3 separate regions of the Homo sapiens genome follow, and regions 2 and 3 are each linked to region 1. Evidence: fine-mapped expression QTL. A gene starts in region 1. Each other region holds a variant in brackets. All regions are shown on one strand. Distances are between the middles of the regions. Region 1 holds the start of PSMC5 (proteasome 26S subunit, ATPase 5). Region 2 has its middle 15 kb from the start of ACE. Region 3 overlaps MAP3K3 (mitogen-activated protein kinase kinase kinase 3).

The links.
Region 2: its variant is fine-mapped to the expression of PSMC5 in breast (GTEx, PIP above 0.99).
Region 3: its variant is fine-mapped to the expression of PSMC5 in whole blood (TOPMed, PIP above 0.99).

Annotation. Positions count from the first base shown.
Region 1 is chr17:63,824,686-63,832,489 of GRCh38, forward strand. PSMC5 (proteasome 26S subunit, ATPase 5) reads left to right here and starts at 2,746. Exons shown (of 12, transcript NM_002805.6): 1 at 2,746-2,829; 2 at 3,453-3,524; 3 at 4,809-4,878; 4 at 5,167-5,264; 5 at 5,448-5,504; 6 at 5,586-5,816; 7 at 6,124-6,250; 8 at 6,351-6,541; 9 at 6,642-6,740; 10 at 6,821-6,931; 11 at 7,039-7,125; 12 at 7,231-7,334. The coding sequence starts at 2,806. The coding sequence ends at 7,284. It overlaps FTSJ3 (FtsJ RNA 2'-O-methyltransferase 3), which reads right to left and starts at 2,978. Exons shown (of 21, transcript NM_017647.4): 1 at 2,367-2,978; 2 at 2,151-2,243; 3 at 1,882-1,987; 4 at 1,573-1,619; 5 at 1,371-1,450; 6 at 851-950; 7 at 557-751; 8 at 363-478; 9 at 140-244; 10 at 1-52. The coding sequence starts at 2,217. It overlaps SMARCD2 (SWI/SNF related BAF chromatin remodeling complex subunit D2), which reads right to left. Exons shown (of 13, transcript NM_001098426.2): 13 at 7,396-7,804. RefSeq lists enhancers at 2,091-3,290, 2,427-2,706, 3,087-3,136.
Region 2 is chr17:63,457,422-63,466,847 of GRCh38, forward strand. No RefSeq gene overlaps it. Among named protein-coding and RNA genes, the nearest start is that of ACE, 15 kb to the right of the region's middle. RefSeq lists enhancers at 1-277, 3,421-3,490. The variant A/C (reference allele first, on the strand shown) is at 5,543.
Region 3 is chr17:63,649,145-63,660,054 of GRCh38, forward strand. It overlaps MAP3K3 (mitogen-activated protein kinase kinase kinase 3), which reads left to right. Exons shown (of 16, transcript NM_002401.5): 4 at 3,413-3,512; 5 at 8,650-8,763. Among named protein-coding and RNA genes, the nearest start is that of MAP3K3, 32 kb to the left of the region's middle. RefSeq lists an enhancer at 6,221-6,270. The variant TA/T (reference allele first, on the strand shown) is at 5,892.

The sequences.
Region 1 (7,804 bases):
TGTCCTCAGTGGTAGCTGGATGCTGTGCCAACTCTTCATCATCTACCATGATCTGTTTGGGAGGATGGAAAGGTGTCAGGGGAGATCCTCAGGCCATGTTTCTGGGGCTACCTCATGTCCCTCAAGGCTGGAGACTCACTTCGCTGGCCTTGGAGAGGAAGTCAACAGGGTTGGCAGCTCGGAGGAAGTCAGTGACTGAGGTACGGTGATAGAGAGTGAGGTCACCCTCAGCATAGCCTTCAGCCTTAGGAAGGAAAAGAGAGAAGCTTGGTCAGGCCCTTCTAAGGTACCTGTAGGACCCACCAGGCCCAACCTCCCTAGAGTTCCAGGACCCAAGAGTGACCCCATTCCCCAAAACACACCTTTGGCTTCTTCTTAGTAACCAATTCAGTAACGGTCTTAGCCTGAACTTCAACCTCCTTAAAGGCAAATTTGGGGTCAAAGAATTTACTGTCAACCTTGTCAGGGGCCAGGAATCCTAAAAATGACAGGATATATTAAAAAGTGTGCTTTGGGAGTTGGGAGCCTGGATCAAGAGAAAGGAAATGATGCCCACCTTGGCAGACTACAAAGATCTCTGCAGATTCATGGCGAGAGGCTTGGGGCTTGGTGGCCTGGACACGGCGGAACAGCTGCTGAAAGATCCATAGCAGAGGCTGATAGTCACGAGAACGGAAAACCTTTGTGATGAAGCTGCCACCACGGGCCAAAAAGTCACAAGCCAAACGTAGAGCCATCAGTGTCAAATGGGCTGTAGGATAGAGACAATTAGTTGACGCACTCTGCAGCCCAGGAGGGCATGCGCCCACCTCCACCATCACCTGATCTCCAAGCACCACACTCCCTGTACCTTGTGAGTAAGCATCATGGACCCAGCTAGCCCCAACGTTGGGGGCCCCATCATTGAGCACAACATCAACCTTCCAGGTCTTCAGCTCCTTCCTCAGGGCCTAAAGAGAAGAAAAGGAACTATGGAAACAGAAACACTGGAATGGCCCTGGTTCAGCCATTTGTCCATCTAGTCATTTGCTGAGTGCCCATCATGGGCCAAATGCAGTACCAGGCACAGGAGATACAATAGTAAACAAAAACAGTATGTCTCTACCTTCATGGAGATTACAGTCTGACACTGAATTCACAGGAGAAGACTTCACTAAAGATCTCTGCCCTTCTCCCAATTCCAAACACCTTTATCCCTGACTCTAAATAAAGCCTGGAGTGGACACTACGAATGCCATAGGTCTTGTCGTACAGATGTCAGGCAAGAACGTGCTCAAAGCACGGTAAAAAGGAAAAACTTGCCTTTAGAGGATTTCAGGGATGTAGATGTTTCCGTATAAAGGGGGAAGGAAGAGAGAGACTCCTATTACCTGCCTACAACGTTCTGTTGTGATGTCCTGCTGGAGAGTCACCACATTGGGGAGAGGCTTGATTGGAACCAGGTCCACTCCTGGAAGAAATCAGGTCAGAGTATTCTAAAAGGTTGCTTCAAGCAGGGAGGAGAGAAATACAGGACAAAATACCTTATACACCCACCCCTTAAAACACCAAGGAGAGCTGTCCGTTACTCACCCACAATAAGGCTGGATACAGGCATAAACTTGGCAGCTACCTGCAGCCTATAAAAGGAACAGAAATTTAAAAACCTAGAGCCATCCTTTTCCCCCTCTTGGCAACTGATCTCTCATCCCTGGTGTTACGTGTACTGGCCAAAGCATATCATAGGCACGTATTCCAAGCCCTTTCTCTGCAATCAAGAAAGGAAACGGCCCCCAAGAGGACCGGGATTCGGGTTCCCCTCCCGCAGTGAAACTGGAAGCCATCCCAGCTCAGAACCCAGAAAGCGGCCACCAGGAGCAACCTGTGGCGAGTGTTACGAACCATCCCCCTGGCGCAGCACACAGGTCCAGCAAGGCTCGGGCTTTCTGCAGGAACTGAAAGCGGCGATTGAGCTGGATCAGCTTGAAAGCAGATCGGGAACGGTAACCTGGACAAAACAACCAAGTGCGCAAACTGCTTCACTAGTAGGATTTCTCCGGCCTCGCAACCGACCACCCCTTCTGCAGGAGAGGTACATAATGGTCGCAAAGAGCAGGCGAACCGGGCAGAGATCGCTCGCTCGCTCGCAGACTGAGCGAATCCGGACTCACCCGTCTCCTTCGCCAAGTGATAAAACTTGTCTCGTCGGCTCTTGCCAACTTTGCCCTTCTTGCCCATGGTGGAAAGGGGGAGTATCCCTCAATCTGGGGAGAAAGTAGAAGTTGGGAACGTCTCTTTCCGGAGCACCAGATTCCACTTCCAGTTTCCCACTTCCAGTTTCCCACTTCCCGCAGCAATTCCACCCCGCGCCCCTCTCCGCACACTACCTAGACCCAGAGCCGCTTTCTCCACACTTGGAACCGCACAAGTATGCAGCTAACTACTTCCGCTTCCGCTTGCGTCCCCTGCGTCCCTGGCTCGAGGTTTTCCGCCATTTTGAGTGTGGCCCTAGATTGTTCTCAATACTCTGTCCTTGGGTTTTGTAAGTTGAAAGTTGAGACTAGGAAGGCATATCACAAGAACTATAAACAGAGTTTCAATGAGGCAACACTGAGGAGGAGTTCTACTCCTTCCTCATCCCCTTCCAAAGCCCCTGAACTCGAGTAGCCGCCCCTCCCATCATGGTTCCCTTAGTGTGGTCTCGCCGCACACCCCGCCCATTGACCCGGAATTCTTCTCTGCCTGGTCTTCAGGTCCCAATCCTCCGCTTCCGCGCTTGCGCGCCAAGACGGCTCGGATGCCGGCGGTCTCTGCTGAAGAGAGAAGATGGCGCTTGACGGACCAGAGCAGGTATGGCGGGTGCAGTGGCGGCCCGGCAGGTTACGGGGCTGGGTGCGGAGCGAGCGTGATCTGAGTGGAGAGCGGGCCGGGGCAGGAGCGTCGGGTGGGTCGGAGGTGCCTGGACCAGTCCATGCTGGACGCTGCCTGCGACCGGATCTGCTGTGTCAGCGCCGCCCTCGGTGAGTCAGGGCAAGGCTGGGAGAGGAAGACGCGGTAGAAGCGGAGTGAGTGAGGGAAGCGATGGGCGCGGGAATGGCCGGCCCACGGGTCGCAGGAGACGGGACGCCAGTCCTTTGGCTCCGTTCCGCTGGCTCCTTCGTCAGTACTGACACCTCGGGCTTGTAGAGCACTTCACGCAGTGCAAAGCGCCCCCCGTCTATATCATATCGCCTCTCGGTCCTCCTAAAAGTCGTATGAGGTAGGCGGCGTTCCCATTCTTTTATTTTAGTCCTGGGAAAATGGAGGGTTCCAAGGGAGGGAGGGATTAGAACCCAGATCCTGAGCCTCCGAAGTCCAAACTTTTTCTACTACGCAAAGCTACCTGGTGTCAAGCCTTATTCAAAGTGCCCTGCAAGTGGCTTTACCCCCTCGGATGTTTAACCTGTCGTTTAAGACTCACTCTGTGTCTTCAGATGGAGCTGGAGGAGGGGAAGGCAGGCAGCGGACTCCGCCAATATTATCTGTCCAAGATTGAAGAACTCCAGGTGAGGACGGACTCCAGAGGGAGCTAGGAAGGGTGATGATGGGGGATGGAAACGGACTTCCACAAATCCATCTAATTCCTTTGGGAGTGCAGTGGAAGAAGCTGCTGCTTCTCCTTTCTTGTTTGTTTCTTAGCTAGTAGGGTGTATGTATCAGAAGTAAGCAATCTCTTGTTCTCCTCCAGTCCCATCTCTTTGAGGGTCTTAGTGTTCACAGTTTGTTACACATCTTCGAGTCAAATCTTAATAGTAAAGGTACCTCTAGCCAAAGGTCAACCCTTTTGGAAGAAGCCCGAATGAAAAGGATTCTTATAAAAGGGAAACATAAGCTCAGGAGTTGAAATTTATCACCAAGAGGTTGGGTGAGGGTGAAGTGAGAATGTGAGGAAGGGCATCATTGAGGGATCTGGACAATGCTAATTCCATAGAGACTGAATGAAAGAAATTGGGCAACCCAGAGCCCTAGCCTAAAGCGCTAAACCATAGAAAAAGGACCGTTTATGTTGTTAATCAAATGTTTGTGTTACCAGTAAGGCTTCCAGCAGTAAGGTATGGCTTCCAGTAGTAAGCCTTACAGACAACATAAACAGTAGTCTGTTAGTGTTACGTTATACTGTTACGGTAGGCTGTTAGTAGTTTAACTTTGGACAGGTCCATGGATTTTCAATTTCACCCTAACCCCCTGCGTTGTTCAAGTGTCAACTGTAATATAAATTGGATGGGGGAAAGCCACAAAAGACAATTCTGAATTCCAAGTGCATTTGCAGGTATTATGTTTAGTTTACCATTTTTGAATGCTTTTTCATGTGTTTTTATTCGTTCACCTTAGTAGTCTTGAAGCAGGGTAGCTGATGCTATACCCATGTGCCGTTTGGTAACAGATCTAGATTTTTAAAAATAGATTGTCTTACCTTTACTTTGCTTTTGATTGACAGCGGCTGGGCTAGAACTCAGGTTTCTCACCTAACAATCTTTCCACCAGGTGTTGTTGCCTTCCTGCAAGAAATTTGGTGTTACATGAGCCAGCTGTAACTTTTCTCCATTAGATTCTGTTACTCCTGGACCAGTATTGGACAAGCAGCCTTCTTTGATGGCTGCTGTAAGGTCCAGAGGGACTCTTGAAGGACAGGGCAGGGTCATTAGGATCATACTGGAGAATCTGAAACAACATGCAGGTGCCCTGTGCCCTTCCCTCAGCTCATTCAGACCTGTGAGGTCTTGGCCAAGATCCTACCTCCTCCTGTCTCCTGCCCTTGAATAATGGAATTTGTCTCTTGTCTGCCACAGCTGATTGTGAATGATAAGAGCCAAAACCTCCGGAGGCTGCAGGCACAGAGGAACGAACTAAATGCTAAAGGTGAGTGGAGAAAGATGGGAAGCCGCATGTGGGCAGTTTGTCTGAGGTCTGTCCTTATCTCCCTGCACTGTGTCTTCACAGCAGTGCTTACTGTTTTCTCCCTGTCATCATCTAGTAGTTTCACATGCATCTCTTTTTCCTGAGCCCTATTGTAGCCTCCTTAAATACATGAATTTTGACCTTTGGCCTTCCTTTAATAAGAGTGATGCTTAGCTCATGCACGTAGAATTGGGTCCTGGAGACTCCAAAGGAGTAGCTAGGTGACCACTGTGTCTGTTTGCCATCTAGTTCGCCTATTGCGGGAGGAGCTACAGCTGCTGCAGGAGCAGGGCTCCTATGTGGGGGAAGTAGTCCGGGCCATGGATAAGAAGAAAGTGTTGGTCAAGGTAAAAGCAGCATGACCCCAGGGACCAGCTCGGTCTCCACTGCATTCCCACCCCTTTGTGTGTAGCCTCGGGAGACAGGGTTCTGTGTTCTGTCAAGGTATTGTGGGATTCTCATAGGTCTTCCTGGGTAGGATTAGTGATTTGGTGGCTGTCAAGGAAGGTCATGAGCCCTTGTTTCTTTAGGTACATCCTGAAGGTAAATTTGTTGTAGACGTGGACAAAAACATTGACATCAATGATGTGAGTGTAGCAGGTGAGGTGGTGGTGGTGGTGGGGTCAGCTCTTACTGTACCACTTCTGAAACTCGCCCCCTTCACCCAGGTGACACCCAATTGCCGGGTGGCTCTAAGGAATGACAGCTACACTCTGCACAAGATCCTGCCCAACAAGGTAGACCCATTAGTGTCACTGATGATGGTGGAGAAAGTACCAGATTCAACTTATGAGATGATTGGTGGACTGGACAAACAGATCAAGGAGATCAAAGAAGTGATCGAGCTGCCTGTTAAGCATCCTGAGCTCTTCGAAGCACTGGGCATTGCTCAGCCCAAGGTGAGGAGCAGGGCTTCTCTGAGAGGGCCAAGCTGTACTTACTCCTCCTGCCCCAGCCAGCCCTACTGCAGGGGTTGGGGAGGCACCGGGATAGGCTGCATCTTGCTTGGGCTGGCCCTCCCCCTGAAAAGAGTGGCTGGGGAAGTGTTCCTAGGGCGGTGAGGTGGTTTGGATAGAAGGGACCTTGATGTTCCTTTTTTTTTTTTGTATCCCTAACATCTAGCAAGGGACCCAGCACTCGGTAAATGTTCACTGAATGAAATGAGGGGTGTAGCTTTCTGCCCTGAGTCCTGCTGTTCCCCTGTAGGGAGTGCTGCTGTATGGACCTCCAGGCACTGGGAAGACACTGTTGGCCCGGGCTGTGGCTCATCATACGGACTGTACCTTTATTCGTGTCTCTGGCTCTGAACTGGTACAGAAATTCATAGGGGAAGGTAACCATGGCTAGCAATGTGAGAAGCAAGAGGTAGGGGTAGGGGGTTAGAGAGCTAATAAGCTAATAAGCTCCCTAACACCAGCTCGGCCTCCACACAGGGGCAAGAATGGTGAGGGAGCTGTTTGTCATGGCACGGGAACATGCTCCATCTATCATCTTCATGGACGAAATCGACTCCATCGGCTCCTCGCGGCTGGAGGGGGGTTCTGGAGGGGACAGTGAAGTGCAGCGCACGATGCTGGAGTTGCTCAACCAGCTCGACGGCTTTGAGGCCACCAAGAACATCAAGGTAAGGTGGTAGCATCCTTGGGATGGGCCCAGGGAAGGCCTGGGTGCCACGCAGGCTGAGGAAGAGGTTTAGCTGATCCCCACTTGCTTTCTCTGCTCAGGTTATCATGGCTACTAATAGGATTGATATCCTGGACTCGGCACTGCTTCGCCCAGGGCGCATTGACAGAAAAATTGAATTCCCACCCCCCAATGAGGAGGTTTGTGATGGACACTGTGCAAAGTGGCTCTGGCTGTGGGGGTGGGGTGTGGGGCTCAGGCTTTTCCTTGCCATCTCCAGGCCCGGCTGGACATTTTGAAGATTCATTCTCGGAAGATGAACCTGACCCGGGGGATCAACCTGAGAAAAATTGCTGAGCTCATGCCAGGAGCATCAGGGGCTGAAGTGAAGGTAATTGGAGTACCCACTGAAAACAGGGCAGAGGCAGGAAGCTCTGGGCTCAAGGGCCACAGATGAGGGGCACAGCAGTGGGGCCTCAATTTCCTTTTCCTGTTCAGGGCGTGTGCACAGAAGCTGGCATGTATGCCCTGCGAGAACGGCGAGTCCATGTCACTCAGGAGGACTTTGAGATGGCAGTAGCCAAGGTATAGGCCTCCATCTTTGTGCCTTTGCCAGTGGTGGCTCTGGGGCAGTGGGCTAGGGCATGTGTGTGTTCGTAACTTAATGTTCATTCTCTCTCCCACCCCTAGGTCATGCAGAAGGACAGTGAGAAAAACATGTCCATCAAGAAATTATGGAAGTGAGTGGACAGCCTTTGTGTGTATCTCTCCAATAAAGCTCTGTGGGCCAAGTCCTCTAGGACTCCAGTCTGTTAATGAGGGCTGTGCTGTTCAAGGACCAGGTCCAGGCACCACCAATAGACAAAAGGATTTATTTGGAAATTTCCAAACCTGCCAGATGTGGCACTCGCCAAGCCCTAGGCCCACCCTCCTCACCAAGCTCCAAAGGGCAACACCAGTCCTCCCAGCCTCCCCATTCACCTTACCCTGGCCTCCACATGCACATACCCCATACCTCAGGCCATGCTAGAGAACTGGAGTGTCCCCTCCCCGGCCCAAGCCGCTGGAGAGGCAGCCCTCTGGCATCCCAGGAGATGATGGCGGCCAGAGCCGCTTGCATAGATTGAGGAAAGAAAAGAAGGAGGCACCTAACAGGCTCCCTGAAAACCCCCAACTTACCCCTGTACAAAAAAAGTGGCTCCCACATAGAAAACTTGCTCCCAAAATAGTGCAAATACCCAAAGGAAAGGAAAAAACCAGCAGC
Region 2 (9,426 bases), 370 kb before region 1:
GGTTGAATGGATTAAGGGCGGTGCAAGATGTGCTTTGTTAAACAGATGCTTGAAGGCAGCATGCTCCTTAAGAGTCATCACCACTCCCTAATCTCAAGTACCCAGGGACACAAACACTGCGGAAGGCCACAGGGTCCTCTGCCTAGGAAAACCAGAGACCTTTGTTCACTTGTTTATCTGCTGACCTTCCCTCCACTATTGTCCTGTGACCCTGCCAAATCCCCCTCTGCGAGAAACACCCAAGAATGATCAATTAAAAAAAAAAAAAATGGACTAGGGGCAGGGCACAGTGGCTCACGCCTGTAATCCCAGCACTTTGGCAGGCTGAGGCAGGTGGATCACCTGAGGTCGGGAGTTCGAGACCAGCCTGACCAACATGGAGAAACCCCACCTCTACTAAAAATACAAAATTAGCCGGGTGTGGTGGTGCATGCCTGTAATCCCAGCTACTTGGGAGGCTGAGGCAGGAAAATCGCTTGAACCTGGGAGGCAGAGGTTGCAGTGAGCTGAGATCGCGCCATTGCACTCCAGCTTGGGCAACAAGAGCAAAACTCCGTCTCAAAATAGAATAAATAAATGGACTAGGGAGAGGGACTGGGGGGACGAGAAGAGGGGGCCCAGTGGGAAATGATGAGGGTCTGTACTCAGGTGGGGAGAGTGGCAGCAGGGCTGGAGAAGAGGGGTGTTGAGGAGGACTTGAGGAGCTGGGCAGCAAAGGACCAGACCAGAGGGGCCACCCAGAGCTGGCGAGAGGTGTCATCCCTGTCCACATTCCCATAGGGACAGCAGCGGAGGGATCTTTGATTTCACTAGAGGCAGAACCAGGAAAAGTAGGTTTAAGATTTGGGATTAGGCCAGGCATGGTGGCTCATGCCTGTAATGCCAGCACTTTGGGAGGCTGAGGCAGGCAGATCATTTGAGGTCAGGAGTTCATAACCAGCCTGGCCAACATGGTGAAACCCCGTCTCAACAAAAAATACAAAAATTAGCCGGGCTTGGTGGTGCGCACCTGTAGTCCCAGCTACTAGGGAGGATGAGGCAGGAGAATCACTTGAACCCAGGAGGCAGAGGTTGCAGTGAGCTGAGATTGCACCACAGCACTCCAGCCTGGACGACAGAGCAAGACTCTGTCAAAACAAAACAAAACAAACACAATAAAAGATTTGGGATTAAAGGATTGGAGGAACATCCTGGCTCCACAGAATGTGACACTTGATACCATCCAGCCAGAGTAGCCCAGGGCTTCACGCAGTCTGTGGGATGGAGAAGGAGGGACAGCTGGTGGCTCCTGGTGGGGACACGTGTCCCGTTTTGCCTCCATTTGTTGGGTGACCTTAGTCCACCTACCAACCACTTTGTGCCTTGGTTTCCTTATCTGAAAAATGGGAATCAAATGGTACCTAACTCACAGGGTTGCTAGGAGGTTTCACTTCTCTGTGTAAAGCACTAAGATGCCTGGCTCAGTAGACACGGCCTCATGTTGCCATTTCACACGCCAGCGCCCACGCAGCACCCAGGCAGCACCAGCTAATGGAGGGCAGTTAACGTTGGTGATGTGGGGGCAGGAGGCACGATCTTGGCAAATACCAGGCCTGGCTTCAAAGGAAGGCCCAGGTTCGGGGCCACCTTCTGGGCTTGGGCTTAGGTGCAATTTTTTTTTTTTTTTTTTGAGATGGAGTCTTGCTCTTTTTCCCCAGGCTCGAGTGCAATGGTGCAATCTTGCTCACTGCAACTTTTGCCTCCCGGGTTCAAGTTATTCTCCTGCCTCAGCCTCCAAGTAGCTGGGATTACAGGCACACACCACCACACCCAGCTAATTTTTGTATTTTTAGTAGAGACGGGGTTTCTCCATGTTGGCCAGGCTGGCCTTGAGCTCCTGACCTCAGGTGATCCGCCTACCTCAGCCTCCCAAAGTACTGGGATTACAGGCGTGAGCCATCATGCCCGGCCTTGGGTGCTATTTTGAACCCCTTTGATGCCCTGTGAGCAGCTCTCACTTGCCACTCACCCAATGCCTGGGGGGCAGGGAGGTCGACGCTTCATGGAGATTTCCATAGGATGGATGCCTGGTCCAGCAGGGTCCCAATGGGCAGGGGCAGAGGCAGGCAGAGGAAAGGGTCACAAATCTCATAGCCCTAGAAGGGAGTGAGAAGAGGAACTGGCGGGCACAGCCACTCACATCATAGCAGAGGACCTGCACCGTCAAAGCCAAACTAGCAGCATGTCCAAGACCCAAATCCTTCATCTGCTTACCCTCCTTCCCACCTCCCCCAAAACTGTTTCTAGCATGTCCCCCTCCCCATAGAAGGCATCATCACCCCCTCCACTCTTCACCCCCCCCCCAAAGCCAGCCAGTCCACAGCTATCCCTTTCGGTCCCACCTGCAGCCAGCCCCTAAACCTACCACTGCCCTCAGTCGTGGGGTCTCTTCCTTCCTGGTGGTGACAGGGCCTTCTGAGTTTGCTAAGCACAGATCTACACTGCATCAAAGAGATCAGAGAGGTGACTGGGAAAGGCAGATTTGGTCATGGTCCTCCCCAGCTAAAAACCTGTTGCCCTCAGGAGGAAGTCTGAGCCCGCCTTAGCTCCATGGCCTCAGCTTCTGCAGTCTCCGTATCATCCACAGCTCACAGCCTCCTGCCGATCAGTCAGCACGTCTTTCCAGACCTTCTGCTTGAAATGCGAGTCTTCTAACAACTTGCCTGCTGAACTCCTACTCCTCCTTTCAGGGCTCAGCTTAAGCATCGCCTGTGGCCAGGGCTCAGGGCCTGCCCTGCACCTTTCATATCGCCTCTCTGGGAGTGGCTTGTTTAAACATCCCGGGAGCCTGGAGAGGTGGTATCACAGGCATTTGAACCAGAGCGACTCCATCTTGAGTGAGGGCTAGGAAAATGAAGTTGGGACTTGCATTCCCAGAAGGCTATTCCCAGCCTCTAGATGTTTACAGTTAAGGAAATGGATTAATAATGTTTACTAACAAACCCAAACTTCGGAGTGTCCAGATATCCCGATATCTCGAGAACAAAGGCATTCCTAATTTTGCTTCAAAGATAATAATATTGATTCTTGCAAAATTTGGTAATTTTAAAAAAGAATCCTTTATCACAAACCCTGTAGCAGAGCACATCTCCCCATGATCTTTTTTTATCCTATATATATACAAGCACTGTACCTAGGGTGGATGCATTCCTCCTCTTACTTTTGGGAATGCCCTATTCTGTCTATGGAGTAGCTGTTCTTTCACCACTTGACTTTCTAAATAAACTTGCTTTTCCTTTGCACCGCAGACTCGCCCTGAATTCTTTCTTGAGCAAGATCCAAGATCCCTCTCTTGGGGTCTGGATCGGGACCCCTTTCCTATAACAGTGCGACCAGGCTGTCCCTGCTCACCAAGGTGTCTGGGCACGGTCGGTGACTGCTCTTTGTAGGTCTCGGTGAAAACCTGCGGAGGAATGAGTGAGTGTAAGAAAGGGAAGGAGACATTTTTAATTAAGACCAGGCAAGATTAGGCAATAGGAGAAAAGACAGATATGAGTCAAAGCTTACTCACATGTTCCTGGCCTGGGAGGCAGAGATAGATTGTCACTGTCCGCAGCCACGGCAGAGCTGGGCTGTATCCTGGGCCTGAAATGAAGAGGTACCTCCCTCTCCTCCCCTGCTTCCTGGGATTCTGGGCCTGACATCCTATAGCAGGGTACACTGGAGACAGGGCCAGATGAGTTGCCACACTGCATTGTCCCTGGCATGTCACCATTTTTTGTAATTTATTGTTTTTTACTGTGGTGAAATACACCTAACAGCCGGGCACAGTGGCTTACACCTGTAATCCCAGCACTTTGGGAGGCTGAGGCAGGCAGATCACTGGAGGTTCGGAGTTCAAGACCAACCTGGTCAACATGGTGAAACCCCATCTCTACTAAAAATACAAAAATTAGCCAGGCATGGTGATGGGCACATGTAATCCCAGCTACTTGGGAGGCTGAGGCACGAGAATCGCTTGAACCCGGGAGGTGGAGGTTGCAATGAGCTGAGATCGCACCACTGCACTCCAGCCTGGTGACAAAGCTAGACTCCATCTCAAAAAAAAAACAAAACAAAACAAAACAACATCTTGCTTAGTAAGTTTGTGCTTGACCGAAAACTGAGGGGAAGAGCTAAAATGAGACGTGAGAGTTAAGATGGGATTGCTGAGTGAGTCAAAAGAAATTAAGATTGAACTTGACAGTCAGCATTTAAAAGAGAGAAGTCAGATGCACATCGACAAACTGGCCATCTTTCATACGGAAAAGATCTGAGGGTTTGCACTGACTCTCAGTTTCTTTTCTCTTTTTTTGAGACGGAGTCTCGCTCTGTCGCCCAGGCTGGAGTGCAGTGGCTCCATCTCCGCTCACTGCAAGCTCCGCCTCCTGGGTTCACGCCATTCTCTTGCCTCAGCCTCTCGAGTAGCTGGGACTAGGACTACAGGCGCCCGCCACTACGCCCGGCTAATTTTTGTATTTTTAGTAGAGACAGGGTTTCACCGTGTTAGCCAGGATGGTCTCGATCTCCTGACCTCGTGATCTGCCAGCCTCGGCCTCCCAAAGTGCTGGGATTACAGGCGTGAGCCACCGCGCCCGGCCTGACTCTCAGTTTCTATATGAGCTGCAGCAGGTGAGGAGGCTGCCAGAACAACCTCAGCCCTCTTCGGCTGCACCAAGGGAAGGAATTGCATTAAGTGGACCAGGGCTCCCTCTGCGCATGTTAGGCCAGCCCACAGGCTTTACTTAAATACAGGCAGCATAGTTTAGGAGAGATGTGGAAAATCTGCAGTCCATCCATGAGAAGATGACAGAGCATCAGGATACAGAGAACTTCTCTCCCCGGGAATCACTGAAGGCACTGTGTTTCTCCTGGAGAAAAGGAGACATGCTTAGACATGGTTGTGGCCGGGTGTGGTGGCTCATGCCTATAATCCCAGCACTTTGGGAGGCCAAGGCGGGCAGATCACCAGGTCAGGAGATCAAGACCATCCTGGCTAACACAGTAAAACCTCATCTCCAGTAAAAATACAAAAAATTAGCCGGGCGTGGTGGCGGGCGCCTGTAGTCCCAGCTACTCTGGAGGCTGAGGCAGGAGAATGGTGTGAACCTGGGAGGCAGAGCTTACAGTGAGCCGAGATTGCGCCACTGCACTCCAGCCCGGGTGACAGAGTGAGACTCCGTCTCAAAAAAAAAAAAAAAAGACATGGGGTTGCTACCTCTCATCTTGGACAGTGGCCATGTCAAAGAGAAAAGACTCATTGTTTCTCTAGAAAGCACAGTGAAAAACAATAAGCCTGGCCTGGGGCGGTGGCTCATGCCTGTAATAATAAGCCTGGCCTGGGGCAGTGGCTCATGCCTGTAATCCCAGCACTTTGGGAGGCCGAGGTGGGTGGATCACCTGAGGTCAGGAGTTCAAGACCAGCCTGGCCAACATAGTGAAACCCCGTCTCTACTAAAAATATAAAAATTAGCCAGGCTTGGTGGCGCATGCCTATAATCCCAGGTACTTGGGAGGCTGAGAC[A/C]GGAGAATTGCTTGAACCCAGGAGGCGGAGGTTGCAGTAAGCTGAGATTGCACCACTGCACTCCAGCCTGGCCGACACAGCGAGACTCTGTCTCAAAAAAAAAAAGAGAAAAAAAAGAAAAAGAAAAACAATAAACCTAAAGAAGAGGCAGGAGACACATTTAGCATAACAAAGCAATTTCTAACAACCACAGTGGCTCAGCCCACAGAAGTAGTGAGCTTCTGTCCTTGAAAACGTTCGGATGTGGACAGGATGATGTCGAGGATACCAGAGACATTACTGGCCAGAGAGCAGCGTTTCCCGATTGTTTTCCCCTTCCAAGCATCCCATTCTTAAAGAATCTCATTTTTTGAAATTTAAAATTAACTTTAAATAAATTTCACTTATTAAAAGTAGTGATTATCCCATTTTATCTTTATTTTATTTTATTTTATTTATTTATTTATTTTTTGAGAGGGAGTCTTGCTCTGTCACCCAGGCTGGAGTGCAGTGGCATGATCTCCGCTTACTGCAACCTCCGTCTCCTGGGTTCAAGTGATTCTCCTGCCTCAGCCTCCCGAGTAGCTGAGATTACAGGAGCCCGCCACCACACCCAGCTAATTTTTGTACTTTTAGTAAAGATGGGGTTTTGCCAAGTTGGCCAGGCTAGTATTGAATTCCTGACCTCAAGTGATCCACTTGCCTCGGCTTCCCAAAGTGCTGGGATTACAGGCATGAGCCATCGCGCCCAGCCTAATTGTCCCATTTGAGTAATGAAAAACCTATATACTATCAATCATCCGATGCTCAGCTTGGGGTTCACTGAATAGAAGAAGTGACTCAGCCTTGGGGGTCTGGAAGAGCTTCTGAGAAGCAGAGGTTGTGCCAGAGTGGGGTTTGAGGAATGACTTGGGGGTTCTACAAGCAGACAAAAGAGGGTCTTTGCAGCAGAGAGACTCAGAGGTGAAAACATCAGCTCTGGAATAAACTACTGAGTATAAAGTGGGACTGAGAGGAGGCTGGAAGCAGCAGGGTGCAGATTAAAAAAGGCTTGTCGGTTTGATGAGGGCCGTGCGGGAGCTTTGCCCAGGAAAACAGCATGAGTGAAGAGGAGCTGGCCAAAAAAGAAAAAAGAGATAGAATCCAACTGCATTCAAAGTAAGACCTCCTGTTTATCAAAAGACACCCCCCCACCACCACCAAAGAAATTCATGCAAGTCACAGACTGGAAATGATATCTGTAACACATTTAAATGACAAAGGATTAATATCAAGAATATATAAAGAACTCTTAAGAATCAGTATGGAAAAGAAAAGAAATGGGCAAAGAACACAAACAGGAATATCACAGAGGAGAAAGCACACATGTCCTGTAAACATATGCAAAGATATTTAACCTCATCAGCAACAAGGTAATGAAAATGTCATGCCCCTCAAATTGGCAAAAATTAAAAAATTGGACAGTAGTAAGTGTTGGTGAAGCTATGGAGCAATGTGGGAACTCTTATCCACTGTTGGTGGGAGTGCAAATCAGTGCAACTATTTTGAAAGCAATTTGACATCTGGATACCCTTGAACTTTTGCATACCTTTGAACACCTGCACAGCCTTGGCCCAGTGACTTTACTCCCAGTGTATTCCCTACAGCAGTACTTCTCTCAAACTGTGGTGGAGGACCTGTCTTGTTTCTGTGTTAATTTCCAGTTTGTTTGGGGAATAATCCTTCTTGTAAAATACAATAAAAATGAACCACTAAAAAATGGAATGAAAAAAAGGCATACAATTTACAAGCCCTGATATCTTGCTATTAGATTCAACAGATATAAAATTGCTTATGTATACCAAGGGGACATGTACAAAATGTTCCTGGCAAATCATTTTGTAATAGCAAAAAACAAAAAGTAACTCAAATGTCCATTGACAGGAGATCAGAGAAATAAATTGTGACATAATCACGTGACAAACTATAGAATTGTGAAAATAAATGAACTACAGCTCTATGCAACGACAAAAAAAGTCTCAGAAACATAATTGAGAGAAAGAAGTTTCTATCGCCCCAAAAATAAACCTCAACCCTATTTTCAGTTACTTCTCCTTCTTCTTACCCCCAGCCCCAGGCAATCACTCATCTACTTCCGTCTCTATAGAGTTGACTTTTCTAGACATTTCCTATACATGGAATCTTACAATATGTAGTCTTTTGGGTCTGGCTTCTTTCACTTAGCACCCTGTTTTGGGGGTTTCACCCTTTGTTGTGGGATATATTAGAGCCTTATTCCTTTGTATTGCCAAATAACCACCTATGTCGATATGCCACATTTTGTTCATCCATTCACCAGCTGATGACATTTGAGTGGCTTCCACTTCTCCGCAAGTTTGAAGGATGCTGCCTTGGGTGTAGGTCTTTGCACTGATGTGTTTTCATTTCCCTTGAATTCAAACGCAGGTGGTATTGTTATTATAAAGCTCTACAACAAGAAAAATTCATTAGTATGATGTTTAGAGATACATATAAAGTACTGAAACTTTTTTTTTTTTTTTTTTTTGAGACGGAGTTTTGCTCTTATTGCCCAGGCTGGAGTGCAATGGTGTGATCTCGGCTCACCGCAGCCTCCGCCTCCCAGGTTTCAAGCGATTCTCCTGCCTCAGCCTCCTGAGTAGCTGGAATTACAGGCATGAACCACCATACCTGGCTAATTTTGTATTTTTAGTAGAGACGGGGTTTCTCCATGTTGGTCAAGCTGGTCTTGAACTCCCGACCTCAGGTGATCCACCTGCCTCGGCCTCCCAAAGTGCTGGGATTACAGGAGTGATCTACCAGGCCTGGCCAGTACTGAAACTTTTTTAAGGGAATAATAACAGCATTCAGGGCCAGACACGATGGCTCACACCTGTAATCTCCGCACTTTGGGAAGCTGAGGTGGTGGATCACCTGAGGTTGGGAGTTTGAAACCAGCCTCACCAACATGGCGAAACCCGGTCTCTACTAAAAAATACAAAAATTAGGCTGGGTGCGGTGGCTCATGCCTGTAATCCCAGCACTTTGGGAGGCTGAGGTGGGCAGATCACAAGGTCAGGAGATTGAGACCATCTGGCTAACACGGTGAAAACCATCTCTACTAAAAACACGAAAAATTAGCCTGGCATGGTGGCGGGCACCTGTACTCCCAGCTACTTGGGAGGCTGAGTCAGGAGAATGGCATGAACCCAGGAGGCAGAGCTTGCAGTGAGCCAAGATCGCGCCACTGCACTCCAGCCTGGGCGACAGAGCGAGACTCCGTCTCAAAAAATGTATAATAATAATAACAATAATACAAAAATTAGCCAGGCATGGTGGCAGGCACCTGTAATTCCAGCTACTCCAGAGGCTGAGGCAGGGAAAATTGCTTGAACCTGGGAGGCAGAGGTTGCAGTGAGTTGAGATCGTGCCACTTCACTCCAGCCTGGGCGACACAGTGAGACTCCATCTCAAAAAACAAAACAAAACCAAAAGAAAAGACACGAAAAAACCAGCATTCAGGGGAGTAGATGAGGAGCATGGGGGTGGGAAGAGAAGGATGAAGCTGGAGGCAAGGGTGATGGCTGGTGGGTTTATGGGTGCTCGCTTCGTATTATGCTCCATAACTTACATATATATTTTATTAGATATCATGTTTATGTATATATGCTACATAATAAGAAGGCAAGGCCGGGTTTGGTGGCTCACACCTGTAATCCCAGCACTTTGGGAGGCCAAGGTGGGTGGATTACTAGAGATCAGGAGTTCAAGACCAGCCTGGCCAACATGGGGAGACCCCCGTCTTGGAGGTGAGAATGGTTTGTTTAGACTCTAGACTAGCACTGTCTAGTGGACCGTTCGGTTATGATGTGTATTAGTCTGTTTTCTCACTGCTATGAAGAACCACC
Region 3 (10,910 bases), 170 kb before region 1:
AGGGTCTCTGGGCCAGGTACAGAGGCTCACGCCTGTAATCCCAGCACTTTGGGAGGCTGAGGCAGGAAGATTACCTGAGGTCAGGAGTTCCAGACCAGCCTGGCCAACATGGTGAAACCCTGTCTCTACTAAAAATATAAAAATTAGCTGGGTGTGGTGGTGCACACCTGTAGTCCCAGCTACTCGGGAGGCTGAGGCAGGAGAATGGCATGAACCTGGGAGGTGGAGCTTGCAGTGAGCCGAGATCGTGCCACTTCAGCCTAGGCGACAGAGCGAGACTCCATCTCAAAAAAAAAAAAAAAAAGTAGACAGGATCTCTGTTGCTCAGGCTGGAGTACAGTGGTGTGATCGTGGAGCCTCCACCTCCCAGGCTCAAGCAGTCCTCCTGCCTCAACCTCCCAGGTGCCTGGGACAACAGGCACACTGCCATAGCCAGGTAATTTTTGTAGAGACAGGGTTTGCCATTTTGCCCAGGCTGGTTTCAAACTCCTGGACTCAAGCTATCCACCTGCCTTGGCCTTCCAGAGTTCTGGGATTATAGGTGTGAGCCACTGTACCTGTTCAGGAACCAATTTTCAGTTTAATCAATTTAAATTTAAATAGTCATATGTGGCTAATGGCTGCCATATTGAATAGTGCAGATGCAGTTCTAGATGATGAAGGCTTTTATGCTTCTCACTGATTTGAGCCAACCTGTTACAGAAGAACATTAAAGAAATTATCTGGTCAGATTTTATTAAAACCCAATGGTTTAGATCCCTCTCTCTTGTGGCTTATTGCTTCTTCCTCTGGTTACACCACTTCCCACTCTGGGGGAGCAGGGAAGATGAGAAAGAACCACACACTTCTTCCTCTCAGCATGGAAGAGGACAAGAACTGCGCAGGCCCATGGCTGAATACTGCTTGCTCCAACACACACTAGTCTGATTTTATCCTGCTTAGGTGTACTAAGAGATGAAGGTTGTTTTAATAGGCATTTCTCCAGTCACATTGGGCATCTTTTCATGTGTTTTATTAGCCACTTACAATTCTTCTGTGAATTGTCTAATCTTTTGCCTTTTCTATTAGATTGTCTTTTATTGATTTTTTACAAGTATTTTCTCAAAGTTTGATATTTGTTTAACTTTGTTGATGGCTTATTTTGCAATCAGAAGTTTATTTATTTATTTTTTTGAGACAGAGTCTCTTGCTCTGTTGCCCAGGCTGGAGTGCAGTGGTGTGATCTCAGCTCACTGCAACCTCTGCCTCCTGGGTTCAAGTGATTCTCCTGCTTCAGCCTCCCAAGTAGCTGGGATTGCAGGGCATGTGCCACCACACCCAGGTAATTTTTAAATTTTTAGTAGAGATGGGGTTTTCCCATGTTGGCCAGGCTAGTCTTGAACTCCGGACCTCAGGTGATCCACCCACCGCAGCCTCCCAAAGCGCTGGGATTACAGGCATGAGCCATCTTGCCTGGCTTGTCTTCTGTATTTTATGTTATGGTTAGGAAGACCTTCTCTCTCTCTGTCTCTTATAGAGAGAGAGAGAGAGAGAGAGAGAGAGAGAGAGAGAGTTTTTTTTTTTTTTAGACAGGGTCTCATTCTGTTGCCTAGGCTGGAGTATAGTGGCATGATCACAGCTCACTACAGCCCTGATCTCCTGGGCTCAAGTGATCCTCCCACCTCAGCCTCCCAAGTAGCTTAGACTATAAGCATGTACTATCACACCTGGCTAATTTTTTAAAAAAATGTTTAGTAGGCAGGAGGGCTCACTATCTTGCCCAGGCTGATCTTGAGCTCCTAGCCTCAAGCGAGCCTCCTACCTTGGCCTCCCAAAGTGCTTGGCCCCCAAGATTTTTTTTTAATTCTGTATTTTCTTATATAAATTTGAGAGTATGTGTGTGTATGAGTTTCTTTCTTATATTCTTTTCTTCAGTTATCTCTGATTATTTTTAGTCATTTCTGTTCTAGAGTATTGGGTTGAACCCATATAAAATTGCCACTTTTATATATCAAAAATGGTCGGCCATCAGTAGTCTCATATAGTTCAACCTAATACATTCATTCAAACTTTTTATTGGCCAAGCATGGTGGCTTACACCTATAATACCAGCACTTTGGAAGGCCGACGTGGGAGGATTGCCAGAGTTCAGAGGTTTGAGATCAGCCTGGGCAACTTATTGAGGCCCATCCCTACAAAAAATAAAAAATTAGTCGGTGCATGCCAGTAGTCCCAGCTACTTGGGAAGCTGAGGCAGGAGGATTGCGTGAGCCCCAGAGGTTGAAGCTGCAGTGAGCCGTTATCATTGCCACTGCACTCCAGCCTAGGTGACAGAACGAGACTCTGTTTTGAAACAAACAAACAAAAAAACCCCACAACTTTTTATTATGGAAATTTCAAGCACACACAAAAGTAGACAGAGTATTAAACTGAACTCCCATGGACCTGTCACCCAGCTTCAACATTACTAACATTTTCCCAGTCTTGTTTTATCAATTCCCACTTTTAAATTTTGCTGAAGTATTTAATAACAAATCAGATTTTACACCTCTTTGGATGACTCCTTACTCTACCTTATATTTGTAGAAATTGTTCTTTGAACTGACCTAATGAGTCTCTCCAGAAAATCTTCAATGTCAATACTAGTTACATGCACAGATATGTCACTGGTTAAGAAAACTGATCAGGCATATCACTAACTCAAGGGGGAATTCCTGTGACTCTGTAGTAGAAAATCTTAATTCTGAGGAAAATCAGTATGGAGATTCTTATGGCATCTCAAAGATGAACGATGGAAAAGACCTTTCAAGTCCTAGAGTTGAGTCCCTTAGGAGTTGAGGCCATGTTTTCAGGACTGCTACTCCAGTCTGTACGTTTTCTACCTTATTTCCTAAATAATTTTTTTCTTTCAACTTTTATTTAAGTTCTGGGGTACATGTGTAGGATGTGCAGGTTTGTTACATAGTTAAACATGTGCCATGGTGGTTTGCTGCACAGATTAATCCATCACCTATATATTAAGCCCAGTATGCATTAGCTATTCTTCCTGATACTCTCTCTTCCCCAAGTCCCAACAGCCCCAGTGTGTATTGTTCCCCCTCCATGTGTCTGTGTGTTCTCATCGTTGGAACATAGTTTTTAAATCTAGTGGCCTCTTCTGTCATTGGCAGAAGAGTCTAAGCTGAAGTGGTAGATGAATGGTTGGGATTGAGCAATAGTTGTGGGTACTGTTGTCAAACCTGATAGATGCTCAGAGGGTGAAAGGTAACGGTAGAGAAGAGGAAAAAAGGAAACAATCGGGAAAAGGCAAATTGAGTGAAAGAAAACAGAATCCTATGTTGAGAAGAAAGGAAGAATATACTCAGACCATTGCTTTTTAAACCCTACGTTTTAAGTATACAATTAACCAACCTTTCTTTCTGTTTCTTTTCAGAATTATAGCGTTCAGCCGGCCTGTGAAATATGAAGATGTGGAGCACAAGGTGACAACAGTATTTGGACAACCTCTTGATCTACATTACATGAACAATGAGGTGAGAAGGCAGATGGATGGGGCAGGGACAAGAGGGGCAGATGCCTACCTTTTTTCTCTCTGTTTACCAGAGCCTTTAAAGTTTGTTCCTCTAATATCATCTGCAGGTTTTCATTTTCTAGACCCCCTTTTCTTAATTCCAACAACTGTGGGATCTCTGTTTTTTACTACATGGGAGATTACTCAGCCATCTCAGCCATCTCCATTCCCCCTACTCATTCAGTGCAGATAGCTCTAATATTCCATGGTGGAATCAGGTATGGTACCAGGGCTAGGGCTTATACTGTCTCCTTTACATTTTGTAGGAGTATCTTATTTTTTTCCCCCCAGCACAGCCTTAACAAGAAGCAGAGGGTTTAGCAGGGGCTAGGGAGGTGTGAAAAACCAGTGAGTAGGTCATCTATTACAGTCATAAATGCAGGATTCTTCTCTTAGAGTTTCTTCTGATTGGAGCTTATTTGTTTCAAATGTTAGCACCTGCTCCAATAAGTTCTTTAACTCCTCCTCCTCCTCACTCCACCCCAACGGTCCTTATTTACTTCTACTTTGAATATCACCCAGGAAGGAATTCTTTTGAATGTCAGTTTCTGGGCTGCTTTCCCAGCTCCAAGAAGAATATTACAGACTACAATCAGCTTAGGCTGGTGCTTTGCAGTGTATTTATGCTGAGTAAAGAATGTGTACCTCGAGGAAATTGAGTTAGGGGTGCAAGACAAGAAAGCTGGGCAACATCATGACCCTTTGAGAACCAGATCATCACTGTGTAGTTTTATTTTATTTGATGAGGAGTTAAAATTTTTCTTTTAGTAAAGACTTTTCTGAATCATTTAGTACTCTTTTCTTTTTCAGTTAATATTTCCATTAAGAATTCCTGATGTTTCTTTATTCTAAAGCCAAATATAAATCATTGTTATTATTTTAGTTCATACATGTCTTAACATACTCTACTAATGTTAATGATCAGGAGTTGACTAACTTACATTTGATTAATTTAAAATCCCTCAATTCCGTTCTTTTGTTTGCCCTTTAAACCCTGCACTGTCAAGATCTAAGAATCCCAAATGAAAAATCTACTGAGATTTTATTTATTTATCTCTTTGTAATTATAGTTTTATTGAGATTAAAAAATTTATCATCTAAAAGTATACCATTCAGTGGTTTTTAGTATGCTGATAGAGTTGTGCAACCAACACCGCTATCTAATTCCAGAACATTTTCTTTTTTTTTCTGAGACAGAGTCTTGCTCTGTCGCCCATGCTGGAGTGCAGTGGTGCAAACACGGCTCACTGCAGCCTTGACCTCCTGCGCTCAAGCGATTCCCCCACCTCAGCCACCCAAGTAGCTGGGACTACAGGCACACACCATCACACCCAGCTAATTTTTTTGTATTTTTTATGGAGGCAGGGTTTCACCATGTTGCCCAGGCTGGTCTCAAATTCCTGAGCTCAAGCGATCTGCCTGCCTCAGCCTCCCAAAGTGCTGGGATTACAGGCATGAGCCACCGCACTTGGCCTCCAGAACATTTTTATCACTCCAAAGAGAAACCTGTACCTATTAGCAGTTATTCCCCTTTCTCTCCTCTTCTCAGCTCTTGGTAAGCACTTATCTTTCTGTCTCTTTGGATTTACCTATTCTGAACATTTCGTGTAGTGCAATCATACAGTACGTGACCTTTTTTGTCTGGCTTCTTTGACTAAGCGTATGTTTTCAACGGTCATCTGTGCATGTTGTCAGTATGTCATTCTATTTTATGGCTGAATAATAAATATTCCATTTATGGATATACCACATTTTGTGTATCTGTTCATCTATTGATAGACATTTGGGTTGTTTTCATTTTTTGGTGATTAAATAGTGCTGCTATGAGCATTTGTTTACAAGTGTTTAAATGAACATATGTTTTCAATTCTGTAAGGTATATACCTAGGCGTGGAATTGCTGGGTCATAAGATAACTCTAACTTTTTGAGGAACTGCCCAGATTTTCTATAATGGTTGCACAATTTTACAGTCCCACTAGCAACTTATGAGTGTATTAGTCTATTCTCACTCTGCTGTAAAAAACTGCCCGAGACTGGGTAATTTATAAAAGAAATAGGTGGCTAGGTGCAGTGACTCACGCCTGTTAATCCCAGCACTTTGGGAGGCTGAGGCGGGCAGATCACGAGGTCAGGAGTTCGAGACCAGCCTGGCCAACATGGTGAAACGCCGTCTCTGCTGCTGATATAAAAATTAGCTGGGCATGGTGGTGCACACCTGTAGTCCCAGCTACTCAGGAGCCTGAGGCAGAAGAATTACTTGAACCCGAGAGGCGGAGGTTGCAATGAGCCGAGATTGCAGCTCATTTGAGACAGAGTTGAGACTCTGTCTCAAAAAACGAT[TA/T]AAAAAAATTATTTTATTTTATTTTTAAATAAACAAATAAAGGAAAGAGGTTTAATTGACTCACAGTTCAGCATGGCTGGGGAGGCCTAGCAAACTTAACAATCATGATGGAAGGGAAAGCAAACACATCCTTCACATGGCGACAGGAGAGAGAAGGGCCAAGCAAATGAGAAAAAGCCTCCTATAAAACCATCAGATCTCGTGAGAACTCACTCACTATCAGGAGAACAGCAGCATGGGATAACCACCCCCGTGATTCAGTTACCTCCCACTGGGTCCCTGCCACAACACATGGGGATTATTGGAACTACAAATCAATATGGGATTTGGATGGGGACACAGCCAAACCATATCAGTGAGGGCTGCAGTTTCTCCACCATCCTTACCAACATTTGTTATTTTCTTCTTTTAATAGCCATCCTAGTAGGTGTAAAGTGATATGTCACTGTGAGTTTTGTTTTTGTTTTTGGTTTGAGACAGGGTTTCACTTTGTTGCGCAGGCCAGAGTGCAGTGTGCAATCATGGCTCACTGCAGCCTTGACATCCTGGGTTCAAGTGATCCCCCCACCTCAGTTTCCCCAGTAACTGGGACAATAAGCACATGCCACCACACTGAGCTAATTAAAAATAAATTTTTGTAGAGATGGGGGTCTCACTATTTTGCCCAGGCTGGTCTTAAACTCCTGGCCTCAAGTGAGCCTCCCGCCACAGCCTCCTAGGATTACAGGTGTGAGCCACTATCCCCAGCCTACTTGGTTTTTTTTATTTAACTCCCTTCCCAACCATTCTTATTTATTCCCACTTTGAATGTCACACAGGAAGAAATTCTTTTGCAATATAATATGATTTGCAGAACATTCTCCCATTCCATAAGTAGTTTTGAGATTTTATTTTAAATATGTACTGTTTTTGGCGAGGCGCGATGGTTCATGCCTGTAATGCCAGCACTTTGGGAGGCTGAGGCAGGCAGATCTCTTGAGCTCAGGAGTTCAAGACCAGCCTGGACAACATGGTGAAACCCCATCTCTACAAAAAGTACAAAAATTAGTCGGGTGTGGTGCCTCATGCCTGTAATCCCAGCTACTTGAGAGGCTGAGGCAGGAGGATCACTTTAGCCCAGGAGGCGGAGGTTGCTGTGAGCCGAGATTGTGCCACTGCACTCCAGCCTGGGCAACAGAGGGAGATGCTGTCTCAAAAAAAAAAATCTTGTATTATAAATTGGGAACTGTGTAAGTTAATTGGACTTTTGCTTGATTTTGTGTTTACCATACGTGTATAAAATCTGACCAGGCGTGGTGGCTCACTCCTGTAATCCCACCAGTTTGGTAGGCTGAGGTGGGCAGATTACTTGAGGTCAGGAGTTCAAGACCAACCTGACCAATATGGCAAAACCCAGTCTCTACTAAAAAAAAAAAAAAATTAGTGGGGAGTGGTGGTGTGCACCTGTAATCCCGGCTACTCTGGAGGCTAAGGCAGGAGAATCACTTGAACCCAGGAGGTGGACATTGCAGCAAGTTGTGATTGTGCCACTGCACTCCAGCCTGGGCGACAGAGTAAGACTCTGTCTCCAAAAAATAAGAAGAATAAGAATAAGATCTGACATTTGCTAGGTCCTAAGCAAGGCATACGTTTGCATCTTATGAATCTCTTAATACCAAGTATTCATAACATGCTCTGCTTTTTGCAGTGAGTGAGACTTATTTGTACCCTCAGGGACCTTCTATTTAATATTTCACTGGAACGTATGAGTGTATTAGTCTGTTCTCACGCTGCTGTAAAAAACTGCCCAAGACTGGGTAATTTATAAAGGAAAGAGGTTTAATTGACTCACAGTTCAGCATGGCTGGGGAGGCCTCAGGAAACTTACAATCATGACGGAAGGGAAAGCAAACACATCCTTCATATGGCGACAGGAGAGAGAAGTGCCAAGCAAAGGGGGAAAAGCTCCGTGAGAATGGAGGAGGTAGTTTTCAGGTTCTAGTCACTGACTTTGCCCTTAAACAGAAAGATAATTAAACCGTGCTATGCAGTCTAAATTTGTGTTTTTATTTGTATAACAATTTTCATCCTCTGACCATCCCTCCACCCCTTCTCTTCCTTTTCTGCTTGTTCTATTAATGTCAGCACAATTGGCAGTAGAGTGGGACATGATCCTACTTAATTTGGAAAAGAATATGGGGGCTGTAACTGTTTGCAACTTGATATTTTGAAGTAAATTAGTGTTTTTGGAGAGGCAGCTCTTCTCAGAAAGTATCTCACAACTGGGTACTGAGGTATGCTACAGCATGGATGAACTAAAAAACATTAAGTGAAAGAAGCTAGATGAAAAAGATTGAATCTTTATGAATTGAATTGAATATGTATGAATTGTATGAGTCTAAATGGAATGAAATGTCCAGAAAAGGCAAATCAATAGAGATAGAAAGTAGAGTAGTGGTTGCCTGGGGCTGGAGGTGGGAAGGAGGAGTGACTATAAATGGGCACAAGAGATCCTGTTGGAGTTCTGGAAATGTTTTAAAATTGGATTATGATGATGGTTGCACAACTATGTAAAGGTACTACAAATTTTTGGATTGTACATTTAGAGAAAAAAATCTGTATGGTTTCAACTAGATCTCTTAAGACCCCATAGTATCCAGTGAGATTGTTTTCCTCCAAATGTATTTTTATTTTTTGTTTATTTTATTTCTGCAAAGTGAAACATTGAGATAAACTTCTGTTTTATATTATTTTCCTTTTCTATGTCTTGTATCACAGCTCTCCATCCTGCTGAAAAACCAAGATGATCTTGATAAAGCAATTGACATTTTAGATAGAAGCTCAAGCATGAAAAGCCTTAGGATATTGCTGTTGTCCCAGGACAGAAACCATGTAAGTAGCCCTTGTCATGGTCTGGCAGCTGAAGACAAAGCTTGCTTTCCTTCAGGAACTTGTCTCGCCTCCTTGACAGACATTTTCGTTCCTCAGCCACTGCCAAATTGAGAGCATAAGCACAGCACAGCCCACTTGTCAGTGGCCAGTGAACATTCTGCATTTGATTTCACCGAAAAGCCAGATTGTCAGTGTTAACATTGCATCTAAAGGTTATTTGACTTTTGGTGAGGGAGGAAGGAAAATACTTTATGATAAAGAATAAAATTCTTGTGCTCTAAATTTATGTTTTTTCAATTAGATTTTGACCCCAACAAGAGAAATTTGATTCGTTTGGCAGTGCCGATTAGGAAAGACTGTCAAAGATTTGAGACTGTCATGCTTTATAAACCCAACTCCCACAACACCTTGCCTTTCCCTTGGAACACTTGTAGGAAACAAACTTTTCCTTTTGTTCAGTGGAAAAAGCCATGGGTTGGGGGCCTCTTATAACTTATCAGCTGTTGCTTTACCCAATGGCAGGCAGTCTGTAGGGTGTCAGAAGTGGGGAATTATCCCTTATGCACAGTTTCCTCTCCTGAAGGATTCCTGGAGGCCCGCATTTCACAAGAATGCTTGCAATCTGTATCTGTCTTCCAATTACTGATTCTTCTACCAGTTTTCTTCAGATGCATGTTTCTGAAGGTTTCTTGGCACCATTTCCTTTTCTTATGCTTGACAGGCTTTCCTTTTCTTTATGTGGACAGCCAACATGGCAGCATAAGTGTGGGTGTAGTGACTAGGACAAAGTTTAGGTGGAATGCTGCTCATGCTGACCATTTCTTTTCTTTTTTTTTTTTTTTTTGAGACAGAGTTTTGCTCTTGTTGCCCAGGCTGGAATGCAATGGTGTGATCTTAGCTCACTGCAGCCTCCGCCTCCTGGCTTCAAATGATTCTCCTGCTTCAGCCTCTCGAGTAGCTGGGATTATAGGTGCCCGCCACCATGCCTGGCTAATTTTTGTATTTTTTAGTAGAGACAAGGTTTCACCATGTTCGTCAGGCTGGTCTCAAATTCCTGACCTCAGGTGATCCACCCGCCTCGGACTCCCAAAGTGTTGGGATTACAGGCGTGAGCCACTGTGCCCGGCCATTTTTTAATTTTTTTAGTAGAGATGGGGTCTCACTGTGTTGCCCAGGCTGGTCTTGAATTCCTGAGCTCAAATGATCCACCCACTTTAGCCTTGCAAAGTGCTGGGATTACAAGTGTGAGCCACTACACCCAGCCTGTGGTGAACATTTTTCTATGTTGTAATTATAATTTGTAAGGATACATGTTTCTCTTGAGTCGATATACCATAATTTAATTAAATAACCATTTTTGCTACTGTTGGGACACAGAAACTGCTCCTGTTTTTTGCATTTATAAATATTTACATTTAAGAGTAACAATGGTAATGTTTGGTGATGAAATCTTTCCTCCAGAACTTCCTCACCTAGACTTTAGGCTTCTTAATAAATGGAAGAATTATGATCCAAAATTGCTCTGTGCTCAGGAATCCTCACCTCTAGAACAGTGTTCCTCTAACTATATGTGATGAAATATCAGTTTTGTTCTTTTGATTTCAAATCTGTCATGGACTTTTTTTTTTTTTTTTTTTTTTTTGGAGATGGAGTCTCACTCTGTCGCCCAGGCCGGAGTGCAGTGGCGTGATCTCGGCTCACTGCAACCTCCACCTCCCGGGTTCAAGCAATTCTTCTGCCTCAGCCTCCCGAGAAGCTGGGATTACAGGTGCACGACACCACGCCCCGCTAATTTTTGTATTTTTAGTAGAGAAGGGGTTTCACCATGTTGGCCAGACTGGTCTTGAACTCCTGACCTTGTGATCCGCCCGCCTTGGCCTCCCAAAGTACTGGGACAGGCATGAGCCACTGTGCCCGGCCGTACCAGTTCTTTTTTTAAATACAAAAACTGAGAAGTGAAATGGAAAAATAAACTAGAGGTATATAAATTATAAGGCTACAGTTTTCATTAGTAGATTCAATAAACATAAAATCACTCTGCCAAATTGCTCTAAAGTTTTTCAAAGGGCCCTCTCCATTTCTTTACTTACTTGGTGGAAGAGCAGGACGAGCAGTATACCAGTGTGTGGACTGGCACCAGCCCAGAT